Homo sapiens: one gene and its partners. The protein of the gene in region 1 purifies or fractionates together with the protein of each later gene. This does not show direct contact. Each region holds a gene or a part of one and is shown in the gene's direction. Other genes may lie near its edges.

Region 1 (3,065 bases):
TGGATGTTACAGTAAGCCGAAATCGTGCCATTGCACTCCAGCCTGGGTGACAAGAGAGAGACTTCGTCTCAAAAAAAAAAAATTGGCTGGGCGTGGTGGTGGGCACTTATAGTCCCAGCTACTCGGGAGGCTGAAGGAAGAGAATTGCTTGAAGCCAGGAGGCAGAGAGGTTGCAGTGAGCCGAGATTGCAGCACTGCACTCTAGCCTGGGTGACAGAGCGAGACTTCGTCTCAAAAATAAATAAATAAATAAATAAAAATAAAATCTGATATTGATAGTGATTTTTTCTCATAGTTTACTTGCTGACCTTTGTTTTTTTTTTTTATATAATGTTTTTATTTTTACTTTATATAATGATGTATTGTGCATACTCCATACCAGGCATAAAATACCAAGGATTTTATTTGCATATATATAAGATGATATATATATAACAGATACGCTAAATTATATATACATCTATATATAAAATTGTATTCAGTTCTCAAACCACTCTGGCAAGCTGGTAGTATTCCTGTTTTGCTAGTGAGAAAACAGGTTGAATGTGACTTGCGGTGCGTTGATGGATTATAGACATAAGAAGCACATGGACGCTGGTCCGTCATGTCAAAATCCCAGATGGCAGCAAGCTGCTAATATTGACAGGTTCTAGGATTCAGGTTTCCTTTTTGCTGAGGAGCAAATGCTGAATGTTAGTCTTATGCCCTGTGGGTCTGCATATTTAACAGCAGTTATCAGGCCTTGGCTAATTTTGTTTATACAAAATGCTTTCAAACTTCATAGGTAATCTCCCTGCCCGCCCCACCAAACACACACAAGGCCTCATTTCTTTACCAGCGTGTTGTAGGATGGACCGCATCAGCAGTTGCCTCTGCAGCATTTCACCCTGGCTTGTGTGTGGAGGTTGGGAGGGGCCAACCTGTGCTGAGGAGGACTCAGGAGAACTGGGGACACAGCAAAGCCCTTAGGATGGATACTATCTTTCTTATCTTTTGGGTCCCTTTGGCATTTCAATAACAGTATCTGTGTTCTCTGGAGCTTCCTTTAAAGAACCTTAGGATCCATTTCTTCACGTGAGGAGGAATCAGGGTGCTGACCCCTGGACACTTAAAGAACCTTAGGACCCATTTCTTCACATGAGGAGGAATCAGGGTGCTGACCCCTGGGACACTTAAAGAACCTTAGGACCCATTTCTTCACATGAGGAGGAATCAGGGTCTTGACCCCTGGACACTTAACCTTAGGACCCATTTCTTCACATGAGGAGGAATCAGGGTGCTGCCCCCTGGACACTTAAAGAACCTTAGGACCCATTTCTTCACATGAGGAATCAGGGTGCTGCCCCCTGGACACTTAAAGAACCTTAGGACCCATTTCTTCACATGAGGAGGAATCAGGGTGCTGCCCCCTGGACACTTGAAGAACCTTAGGACCCATTTCTTCACATAAGGAGGAATCAGGGTCTTGACCCCTGGACACTTTAAGAACCTTAGGACCCATTTCTTCACACGAGGAATCATGGTGCTGACCCCTGGACATCTGGTGCCCCTGACAGTGCCCCCACAGTAGCAACAATAGCAGATGACAGTCAGTTATTTAGAAATGGGCAGGAGCAGCCCTGGTTTTGGCCATCTGCTTGCTTTGCACCCAGCAGCTACTTGCATGCATCTGAAAGCACCAGAGTGAGGGTGTGTGTGCCTCCCAGGCAGTCTTCCTGAGGCAGCTGTTCTCAACATCCATCCTCCTGGCCCCTGATCTGCAGGAACCTCCCCAACCGCCTGGCTTGTCTAGGCCTGTAGCTGGGAAGGAAGAGACGAAGACACAGGGAGAACACACCGGGACTCCACACCTGTAACCACATTCTGTTTGTTCGCCCTAGGAAAGATTGCTGCCTTTTCAGCAGAAGGGAAATTCCTAGGATTGGCTGTCCCCTGCCAAGCTTGGTGGAGCGTCTGCACCTTGGCTGCGCCGCCTGTGCATTTGCCAGTTTCCTCCCACTGAGAGGATGGAGGTGTCCGCACAGCTTTGGGCCTCGTGAGGGATCTGCCTCCTGAGCAAAGAGCTCTTGATCCCGATTTCATGCACAGCCCTGCAGTAAGGAGCCCAGAAGGAACATGTGTTTCCTGTTAAAACTCCTCTTGTTCTCTTTTCTTACATTATGACGTTTGTTTTCAAGGAGAGGGTTTAAAAATGGGATCCTGTAAGCAGACTTGGGCAGTCTCCTTTTGAAATAGGTTGTCTGTACATGTTCTAATGTTTTGTAGAACACGTGTGCCTGTTTAAGTGTATTGATGTGAATAATATTAAATATCCTAATTATTTAATTCATTGTATTGTTTCTGAGAAGTTGGGAAATTACCATTATACATTTACAACCTAATGACTTTTGTATTTTATTTTTCAAAATAAAAGCTTTCAATGTGAAGCATTCTGGTAGTTACATGTTTTCATTAATGTGATTTCAGAGAAGCACAGACCTTATCAGATGCTGATGTGATAAACCAAAGTTTCCTTGGTTGGCTGTATTGTAGATACTCCCCTGGAGCCATCACCTTTTTTTGGAGGGGGGTGGTGGGTAGAGGCAGGGTCTCGCTACATTCCCCAGCCTGGGCTCAAACGATCCTTCTGCCTCAGCCTCCCAAAGTACTAAAATTACAGGTGTGAGCCACGGTGCTTGGCCTGCATTATCATTTTGTAGTGAAGTTTTCTTTTTATTTCAAGAGAGAACCTATTGCCATCCACTTTGAGAATCCTGTTCTATTTCATGCTTGCAGACTGTATTTAAGGACATGGAAGTTACTATTTCCACTTGTTTTCTAGAAGCCTTTGTTATGAAACCCAGGATGTCCAGATAGTAGTAATAATTCCCATATTGAGTGTGTTCACATATGTGCCAGCCATGAAAAGGGTATATAACATGTTATCCCATCTCTGCCCCAAAACTTGTACCTATCCATTTAGGTCATATCCATATCAGTAACTGCAGTATTTTCTACTGTCACTTGAGCCAGAAACTGAAGAGTCACACTTGATTTCACCCTTTTCCTCCCTCTTTCCATTCGCA
Region 2 (3,500 bases), on another chromosome or scaffold:
CAGTTCTTTATGGAATGAGAGAGAAAATTTGTTATTTTCTAACTCCCAACATGTGTAGTATGTTTCTTGAGGGATACTATTCTATTTAATACTTTGGCATCAGACATTCTGAATCTGATGCAGTAGCTAATGGATCACGCTAATTCCAAGATTGAATCAAATATGCTGATGTCATTTTTTTTGATTAGGCCATTTTGTTTTCCATTTGACAAAAGTCATGAATAAAATGCCTTCCTAAATAAAACTGGGTGATTTGAATACCCATGGCAATACTTTTTGTTTTTTTCATTCCTTAATAAATTTCGTCACTTAAATTATTTTAGGGAAAAATCAGGAAAAATATTTTGGCACAAAATTGAAGAATGTGTACTCAAAAGTAAATAGAAGTTGGGTGTTGCTTTAGTTTCATGATATTTTCTTTATTATAGCCACATCATTGTTTAGTTGTCACTCATTTTTTTCTACTATGAGGCAAAGTTATCTATTTCCAGAGTGAATGTGATTGAAGAGTGTCTAAAATAGTAGAAAATATTTTATTATTTTTATACTTAAAGTCAATGATTATAATGAGTTGGCTATATATGTGGTTCTACCTCTTAGAAAATAATCATTGCCCACTTATAAATTATAATGGCATTAAAAAGAAATCTGAATTTCACACATCTATAGTTCCATACTATAAAGTTAAGGTTAAATCAACTGTAACTTACAAGGAGTAGATAGCTGTCATTTAGAGTAAGCAAATATAACAATTTCATACAAATTAGTATAAACAAAAAAAAAAGTTGGCAAGTTTAACAGGTTTAGACAAGTTTATTTCTAAACACATATTTACATAATGCAGTCTCTATATCACTATATTATACATATGATCTGAGTATAGTGGAATATTTACTCTCTCCATCAAAATTGCTAATCCAGTATACATTTATCCTCTGTTTTCTCTGAAAGAAGCATTGTGCTAGACACTATGGTGATACAAAAATAATAATAGAATTCCTGCCCCTAAGCACTGTCTGTCTGGTAGGGAAGACAGATAGATCAAACTATCTATATTTCAAGATATATAATAAAGAATAAAATGTATAATTTAATAAAAATTCAGAAAAATGGAAGCTCATGGGAAGACATTATTAATTCAAATGGGAGAGCCATTTTTTTGCATGTGAATTGACCATGAAGAAATTTAATCCCAGCACTTTGGGAGGCCGAGGCGGGTGGATCGCCTGAGGTCAGGAGTTCAAGACCAGCCTGGCCAACATGGTGAAACCCCATCTCTACTAAAAATACAAAAATTAGCTGATGTTGGTGGTGCACACCTGAAATCCCAGCTACTCGGGAGGCTGATGCAGGAGAATTGCTTGAACCCGGGAGGCAGAGGTTGCAGTGAGCCAAGATTGCACCATTGCACTCCAGCCTGGCAACAGAGCCAAGAGTCTATCTAAACAAAAAAACAAAAAGACAAAAATAAATAAAAAAGAAATAAAGAAATTTAAATATGTGGAAAAATATAGAAAATATAGAGAATGCAGTCTGACAACAGTTGACACATGGAAAAATACATAAAATATTCAAAAGAAAGAAAGCAGTCCAGTAGAGGAATAAATTTTTGGAAAAGTGCTGTAACATGGGAGATAGGAGGAAGCCAGATATTGCACGGTTTTAATTTTGCTGTGCTAAAATTTATTCAGGTAGTTTTATTATTATGCTGATTTTTAGAGCTCCAGCAACTAGCTGTGAGCCCAGGTCAACATAGACTCTCTAGAAGTGTTTTTTAGGTGAATGAGTTGCATGAGATTGAGGTGCTGTTGACCACTCCAGTGAAACTTTCTTTCCAGACAGACACTAATAAACATTCCAGTGTGGAATTCTGGAATGATTTCAATTTAAAGTCATCCGCAGAAAGCTGCTGGTTTCAGTCACAGAAACATATGAGTTTACTGCAGGAAAGAGCAGAAACCAGCAAAGGAGGTTTAGAAATGATTTATAGGAAGAAGAAAATCCCCTGAGTGTAGTTACAGAAGCCACAAAGATGTTGAAAGTTTATGGACATGTGAAACCCCATCTCTACTAACAATACAAAATTAACTGGGCTTGGTGATAGGCGCGTGTAATCCCAGCTACTTGGGAGGCTGAGGCAGGAGAATTCCTTGAAACTGAGAGGCAGAGGTTGCAGTGAGCCGAGATCGTGCCACTGCACTACAGCCTGGATGACAAAGCAAGACTTCATCTCAAAAAAAAAAAAAAGTTTATAGAGTAATTGAGTAATATTTGTATGAGAATTTTATGATTAAACAATATTGAATAATGTGTGTATCATAATTCCCCTTCTTAAAAATTCTCAATACACTTCAGCTTTGAGAAAGTCCAAGCTAAATGACCAGGTTAGCTTATTGTTGCCAAATGAATTTGGCCATGAGAATATTCTCCAATACCTAATACAGTATCAACATCTTCCTGTAAATATCTGAAGTATCTGAGAAACAGTGTTTTGGGAAGTGCTGGCGTAGTCAATTAAGTGCGATACCACAGATGATTTTTGGTTTGCAAGCTAACCAGCATCTGGCATTATCATTTTCATTCTCTCAATGGGACCTTCTGATATTATCTTGGCTTAGCCTGAAATCATCATTTAGGGTACCAAAGTCAAGAAACTTGATTACATTTTTTCATTAAATTCTTTTTTTTTTTTTTTTTTTTTTTTTTGAGACAGAGTTTTGCTCTTGTTGCCCAAGTTGTGGTGCAATGGCGCAATCTCGGCTCACTGCAACCTCCGCTTCCCTGGTTCAAATGATTCTCCTGCCTCAGCCTCCTGAGTAGCTGGGATTACAGGCATGCACCACCACGCCCAGCTAATTTTTGCATTTTTAGTAGAGATGGGGTTTCACCCTGTTAGCCAGGATGGTCTTGATCTGCTGACCTCATGACCCGCCCGCCTTGGTCTCCCAAAGTGCTGGGATTACAGGCATGAGCCGCCATGCCCGGCCTTCATCAAATTCTTTAACATGAGTGACAATAAAGGCTACACAGTGCATTAGCAAATGACATAGAGGATTCCAACATTGCAGTAGAGTTGCTGTGGTGTATAGTGGTTATGTGTAGTCACATACAAAAAGGAATGTCCAATATTCAGCATCTATTATGAACAATTTTCCACAAATTATGTGCTACATTATTACTGCTTTTTAAAAGATGCTTGAATGATCCACAGACTAGTTATTTGCATCACAGTTCCCTCTTCCAAAATACGGATAATATCAAATTAAGAATATATGTGTGTAATATATATATGTTCTAATTTATATATCTATTCATATATATTTTTATTTATAGCCCTTTGAATTTCCCATGATATGTTTAAGGGCTTTAAAAACTAGTAGAATTATCGCTGACTTAAGATAAACAGGAGCCAATATCTGAATTTCTTCACTTTCAGTTTTTCTAAGGCCAAATCATTAGACTATAGGTCTTTCAGTTATCTTCTAATGGATTTCATTGTT
Region 3 (3,500 bases), on another chromosome or scaffold:
CCCTTCCCTTTGCCCGTTAGAAGCCTAATCTAAAGCCCATTAGTTTTTATGTAACCAGAACTCTTGAGTCTTTTAAATTTTATGGTGGTTAAATTGATAAAATGAAATTTTTAAATATGAGAGACAATAATTAATATACTTCGAACATAAATAGTGGCCATATATGATTACATATGGATATCAGATAAAAGCAATATGACATAATTTTTAGTTTTTTACAGTGCTTTTACTCATGACTCTAATAAGAGAACTTGTTGAAGAAGTATTTTGCCTAGAGAAGTAATGTCTCCTATCTCATCGTTTACCACATGATAATAACTGTTATTCCCTGGAGGTTATATTGTGCTAGATATATTCTCTCACATCTTCAAACAACTTTATGAGGTTGTATTATTCCTGTTTTATTATGAGGAAGGTGAGAGTAACTTGTTGCAGTTTCACGGCCAATAAGTAACAGAATTAAGCTTCAAACCCAGGGCACTTTAGCACCAAGGCCCATATACTACCCTACCATGCTTTTAATTCAGTAGTTGAATTCCTCAAATTTACCAGTCAACAGAGTTTATGTTGTGGCACTGTCTTCCTCTCAGGTAATAAAGTAAACCTTTTAAGTACTGTAGCTAAGTAAGTGGCTTAATGTATGGCTGGTATGTGATTTTTAGCACTCCCCTGAACCTTGGGTCCCCTCTACTTAATTTGGTAATAAGTAAAACACAGGAATTTTCTCTTTAAATTCATGAACAAGTTCTAGGTCCTAAAGCTACTTACCTCAAGGCATAAGTTGACTCTCAGAGTGAAGCCCTCATTCATTCCTCATTAGATAGGAGATTAGCTCTGTGTCTCTCTAAAGTCTGTGTGAATTTGAGCATAACTGGGATGCAGAAACCCCCATTCTAGAGGATCAGAACTATACACAAGATGTAAAAAGTATGGAGTGTTTGGCTGTAATTTATGGATTCCTCATACTTAGGGAAGAATATAATGTTTCATATGAGAATAAATAGAGATAATGTGTATTTAGCCAAAAGTTTTGGCAGTCTGATAAATTATTCCTGATCAACTAGAATTAGAACTCATTTCTGCAAGGTATAGTATTTAATGTAGTATGTCATGATTTGTCCCTCTCTCCCTTTAAAAAAAAAAAAAAACAAAACAAAACGTTGTCAGGAAGTTAAACTAACATAAATCTGCCAGAAATCTGTTTCTTTGCAAGGCACTGGCTCTGATGTTTAGGAAGTGCAATTAAAATATATTGTGGTTAATGTGTTTTATTTTTTATACAGTATTTCTGCTACTTTTTCTCAATTTAAATGTTTAAAGAGATGATTTGTTTTAGAACTTGTTACTGAAAAAAGCTAAAGAAGTACAAATGACTTAATTGCTTTCATTATTATTTTAGTCTAAGCCAGAAATCCAGTACGCACCACATTTGGAGCAGGAGCCTACAAATTTGAGAGAATCATCTCTAAGCAAAATGTCCTGTAAGTTTTATTTTAAGTAGCTTAGATAAAAACATTAGCAGTCAAATCTGGTTGTAGTAGAGTTGGTCATGTTTGTTTTTACACTGATGGAACATAAACAGATAATTTCTAAAACAGTGGTTCTCAAACTTTCATGTGTATTACAGTTTGGAGAGCTTGTTCAAACACAGATTGCTGGGCCCTACCTCCAGAGTTTCTAATTTACTAGGTCTGGGAGAAGATCTGAGAATTTGTATTTCTCACAAGTTCCAGATTTTGCTGATGCTGCTGGCCTGGGGGCCACACTTTGAAAATCACTATTCTAAAAACATTTAGTTTGCTTCAAAGGATGTTTTGAGCATGAACTAATCAAATATTCTGGTATTTCCCAATAAATTGATCAAATAATGAAAAATGCCAAAAGTGAGAGTCCCCATTCTATTTTTATTTCCATGTTAGAAGTGAATTTTGACTTATAAGAACATAAAACATCAAGCTAAAGCAGAACTCACCTTGTGAAATTTCCTCATACCTTATTTTAGATACTGATTTAATTAGCCTTCTAATTATTTTGGTGGGTGGGAGTGGGTAGATAATGATAGCACATAACATAAGACCATCTTTAACTTTAATTAGATTAGAATAAACCAAATCCAAGCTCACATGTAATTAAGCAGAAAGCATCAATGTCAATAAGAATTTGAAAATAAAACAGGAAACTCATAATGTGATAGAATATTCATTTGGTTTTGATGTGCTAGAGAAACTGGTACACATTATAAAATGTATCAGATGACACAAACAAAAACAATTGGATATCTGTAAAGTGTATATATCTAGAAGTAGTCATGTGAGACTAGCTTTTGGAATATAGGATATAATAAACTCATACTTACTATTTCAGCAGATCTGCAAATGAGAAATTCACAAGCGCACAGGAATTTTCTTGAAGATGGAGAAAGTGATGGCTTTTTAAGATGCCTCTCTCTGTATGTATTCCTCTTTATTATGTGTATAACAGATAAAATCTGGCTTGTATCAGAGAGATATATTACTTTTTATTATTTTAAAATTAGCACCTCAAAAGTAAACCTTTTTACTTGTTCCTTTCCAAAGTTGTACATTAGATATTTTAGTTTGTTTAAAAGGTTGTAGGCATACTACTTGAATAAAACCCAGGCAGGTAGTTTTTTTCACAGTACAAGAGCATTTTTCTTGTTAGAATCTCTTGATTTATGTTGAATGTGCTTCTCCACACATTTAAATTAAGCTTTAATTTAACATATGTCTGAGGCCGGGCACAGTGGCTCATGCCTGTAATCCCAGCACTTTAGGAGGCCAAGGCGGGTGGATCGCCTGAGGTCAGGAGTTCGAGACCAGCCTGGCCAACATGGCGACACCCCATCTCTACTGAAAATACAAAAATTAGCCGGGCGTGGTGGTGCATGCCTGTAATCCCAGCTACTTAGGAGGATGAGGCAGGAGAATCGTTTGAACCTGGAAGGCAGAGGTTGCAGTGAGCTGAGATCACGCCACAGCACTCCAGCCTAGGTAACAGAGTGAGACTCTGTCTCAAAAAATAAAATAAATAAAATAAGTATGTTTGAATGGTTTAGGGATCAGATTTTTGTTTTTGTTTTTATCTGCATGGCCAGATTTGACGCTAGAAGAGCTGGATAAAGACTCTAGATTAAGAAGGGCTTTGTATTCTATACTAAGGAATATCAGCTCTATGCCAAGAGTTTTTAAGGGTAATGGTAAAGTGGGCAAGTGAGAGTAGGGGTACCATATGCCCTCCTAGGAAAAAATATCAAGCCTTATGAGGGTGAGAGGCAGGTTTTATGAAAGTGTGCATGTTTCCTCTTCTCCAAGGAGTTCAGATATGGTCCCTCCCCCACATTTTACTCCTCCCCACCCCCAACAAAAAAAGGAAAAAGAGAAAGATAGTGGGCCATACCACTTATTGACTATCACCTACTCGGTGTCAGATACCAGGTCAAGCATTTCAGTGAGTGGTAAACAAGTTTCTGCTTTATAGTG
Region 4 (3,500 bases), on another chromosome or scaffold:
TCACACTCCGATGCCCTCTTGGTGGGACTAGGGGCCATTCTGACTTCTCTGAGGGCAATTTGGCAACATGGATGAAAATTCAGAATGTGCATTCCTTCTGGCCTAACAATTCCACTCCTAGGAACTTCTCCTGGGGAGATGCTCAGCCCTGAGAGTCAGATGGCTATTCCTGCAGCATTGCTGACAGTTCAAAAGGGTGGGGATGATAACCTAGGGCCCATCAGGAGAGAATGGGCTCCAGGAGGGCGCTGTAGACACATGGCGCGGCCTCGTGTACATCAGATATCTGTGCATGTATTTAAATATTGTTGTAGGTTTATATGGAAAACCAGCCTTGACTTACTCTTGAGTAGAAGTTCAGGTTTATAGAGTAGCATGGGTATGGTGTGGTCTTATGAATAATATTAATAATATCTGTTGAGTAGTGCTCTGTGCCTGTCAGTCTGTGAAGCACATTTTGTGTGTTATTGCCCTGAGCACCCTGTGATTTAGGTGGTGGTGTTGTGTTTTTTTTTTTTTTTTTTGAAGCGGAGTTTCGCTCTTCTTGCGCAGGCTAGAGTGCAATGGTGCTGTCTCGGCTCACTGCAACCTCCAACTCCCGGGTACAAGCAATTCTCCTGCCTCAGCCTCCCGAGTAGCTGGGGATTACAGGCATGTGCCACCATGCCCAGCTAATTTTTTTTTTTTTTTGTATTTTTAGCAGAGATGGGATTTCACCATGTTGGCCAGGCTGGTCTCGAACTCCCGACCTCAGGTGATCTGCCCGCCGCGGCTTCCCAAAGTGCTGGGACTATAAAGGCGTGAGCCACCGTGCCCGGCTGATATAGGTATTATTATGAGAAAACCGAGGCTTGAGGGAACGTCCGCAACTTACCCATGATCATCGAGCAAGTAAGGGCGGAACTGGAATTCAGACCCAGCTCGCATCCTGACTCTAAGGGCACGTGAGAATGTGCGTGGGTACGCAGTCCTGTGTGCATTTGTGTGCGTACCGAGAGCCTCTGAGACAGGCCTGGAAAGGTGTTCATCAAAAGGGCAGCAGCAACAGTCATGGAGATTAGATTTTGGAGTAATTGGTTATTTTTTTTTATGCATGGTTTTTTTTTTTTGCCTCTTTTTGTTTTATTCACTTAGTTTTATCAATTTTTTGTCTCTTTGACATTATACATACCTCACTTGTATAACCGAAGAAAGTTTTGTTTTTATTTTGAAAACTTAAAAAAAAGATTGCTGGGATTTTTGCATAAGGAATCACAAGATAATTTGCAGACTTCTTAAAAAACAAAGGAGAGCCCGACGCAGTGACTCGCGCCCAGAATCCCAACACCCCGGGAGGCTGAGGAGGCAGCCGGATCACCTGAGGTCAGGAGTTCCAGACCAGCCTGGCCAACATGGTGAAACCCCGTCTCTACTAAAAATACAAAAATTAGCCGGGTGTGGTGGTGTGCACCTGTAGCCCCAGCTACTTGGGAGGCTGAGGCACAAATGAGAATCGCTTGCCACTAGGCAGAGGTTGCAGTGAGCCGAGGTCGTGCCACTGCACTCCAGCCTGGGCGACAGAGCAAGACTCCATCTCAAAAAAAAAAAAAAAAAGAAAGGAGATAAGCCTGGGAGTGATGTGAAGTGAGCTCCGTCCTATGAACGACAGAGCTCTTCCATAGAGCACGGTGCAGGACAGCGGGCCCCTCTCGGGCCTCGGAGGATATGTCCTTCATGTCATGAGCTCTCCCCCTTTCCTCACAGCAGCATTTCTTCACTTTGTTGGAGTCACAGACCCTGTTAAGAATCTGGAGGGAAAAATGCTGAGGATGTTTTCCTCAGGGCAGATATGCATAGACTCACACATTCCATACACAATTTCTTTCTTTTTTTCTTTTTTTTGAGACGGAGTCTCGCTCTGTGCCCAGGCTGGAGTGCAGTGGCATGATCTCGGCTCCCTGCAACCTCCGCCTCCCGGGTTCACACCATTCTCCTGCCTCAGCCTCCGTAGTAGCTGGGACTACAGGCACCTGCCACCATGCCCGGCTCATTTTTTTTGTATTTTTAGTAGAGACGGGGTTTCACCGTGTTAGCCAGGGTGGTCTCGATCTCCTGACCTCGTGATCTGCCCGCCTCGGCCTCCCAAAGTGCTGGGATTACAGGCGTGAGCCACCGCGCCCGGCCTCCATACAATTTCAGAACAATTTCAGAAAGTTCATGGACTGACTACGAGACCTCATCTATGCAGTCTGAGCTAAACGCTCCTACTTCCAGAATCGAAGGTCGCTGGTAGAAGTTAAAATAGTTTAAATGGGTTCTTCAAAAGTAAGCTGGTTTCCCTGCTTCAAAGCAAATGAAAAGGTAGCCCCCTGCTGTTCCACTGTTATCCAGTGAGCTTTGGAGTGTTAAGGATTATGCTTCGGAGTATAAGGGATTAGAAAACGCTGCCGTGAGAATGAGAGGCAATAAACTCAGACTTCAGCTAAGCGACTTCCCAGTCTAGCTCGTTTCTTAGAATGCCTCGCAGGGATGTCTGCAAATGTGTTACCATTTAGGAAAAACAGAAATGGCACAAAACCCAAAAGGTACATGAAAAAGTCAAACAAAGGTATATTTCCTAAAAGAAAATTATATAGGACTGCTTATAGCCTCTTGAGAAATTTGAAAAACCTAGGGTTCAGAGAAAAGGAGGAAAAACAATTCAGTGGTGGGAAACGTCAGTCCTTTAGGAGAAGCTGAAGGAACTGGAGCTGTTTGGTCTCAAGGATCCGTGTGTTATCGCTGAGTGTTGGCCGGAGAGTTTATGGAGCAAGTTTTTGTTTGCACAAAGGCCTAAAAGAGACAGAAAGGGGCATACATTGCTCTTCAACAAAGTTTGCATGAAAATTTCAAGAAACGATGCAGTGCTGAGGACCCCCAGGCACGCGGTGGAGTCGCCTCCTCCAGAGAGTTTTCAAAACAGAGCAGCTTTTAGGCTCTGTAGCCTGAACCCCAGCTGGGGAGCCGAGGTCTCTTCCAGCTCCTTCAGTGCTCTGAGAATTGTCTTCTCGTCCCAGCAACAGGCTTGCCTCGTGGGCTGCAGAGCGGCCAGGCCACCCTTAGAACCATCGTTGGTGTTTTCCAGGCAATCGTGAAGGAACATCCTCCATCAGAAACAGAAGAGAAGAACAAAATCACTGCTGCGATCTTTTATTCCATCAGCTTGACCCAGCAGGGACTCCAAGGGGTGGAGCTGGGAACATTCCTCATAAAGCGAGTCGTCAAGGAGTTGCAGGTAAGCGACACGCAGGGAGCCCCGGTCACGCTTGGCTTCCGTGTGGTCAGGTCAGCGAACCTCGTGGGGTGTCAGGTGCCATGAGGGACACAGATGAAGACAGGAGCTAAAGGGAGGGGCAGGGGGTAGAAAAGGTGCCAGAGACCCCTTGGCAACTCCTAGGAGCCATGAGTCTCCCAGAGAGATGAGAATGATGCTGAGAGAGGCCTCCAACCCAGCTGCCCAGTTGACTGCAAGACGCAGTTGT

What was found. The genes of interacting proteins can lie anywhere in the genome.
Region 2: the proteins of TPST1 (region 1) and TRDN purify together in Homo sapiens (co-immunoprecipitation; one large-scale study listed by IntAct). This does not show direct contact.
Region 3: the proteins of TPST1 (region 1) and TMEM59 purify together in Homo sapiens (co-immunoprecipitation; one large-scale study listed by IntAct). This does not show direct contact.
Region 4: the proteins of TPST1 (region 1) and MLYCD purify together in Homo sapiens (co-immunoprecipitation; one large-scale study listed by IntAct). This does not show direct contact.

The regions. Positions count from the first base shown.
Region 1 is NC_000007.14:66,358,015-66,361,079, forward strand, and holds the end of TPST1 (protein-tyrosine sulfotransferase 1), read left to right. Parts: intron 1-784; exon of another isoform or gene 785-1,880; 3' UTR 1,881-2,429; downstream 2,430-3,065. UniProt on the Homo sapiens protein: Catalyzes the O-sulfation of tyrosine residues within acidic motifs of polypeptides, using 3'-phosphoadenylyl sulfate (PAPS) as cosubstrate.
Region 2 is NC_000006.12:123,504,451-123,507,950, reverse strand, and holds part of TRDN (triadin), read left to right. Parts: intron 1-3,500. UniProt on the Homo sapiens protein: Contributes to the regulation of lumenal Ca2+ release via the sarcoplasmic reticulum calcium release channels RYR1 and RYR2, a key step in triggering skeletal and heart muscle contraction.
Region 3 is NC_000001.11:54,039,705-54,043,204, reverse strand, and holds part of TMEM59 (transmembrane protein 59 isoform 2 precursor), read left to right. Parts: intron 1-1,399; coding exon 1,400-1,481; intron 1,482-2,364; coding exon of another isoform or gene 2,365-2,367; coding exon 2,368-2,449; intron 2,450-3,500.
Region 4 is NC_000016.10:83,909,115-83,912,614, forward strand, and holds part of MLYCD (malonyl-CoA decarboxylase, mitochondrial), read left to right. Parts: intron 1-3,103; coding exon 3,104-3,253; intron 3,254-3,500. UniProt on the Homo sapiens protein: Catalyzes the conversion of malonyl-CoA to acetyl-CoA.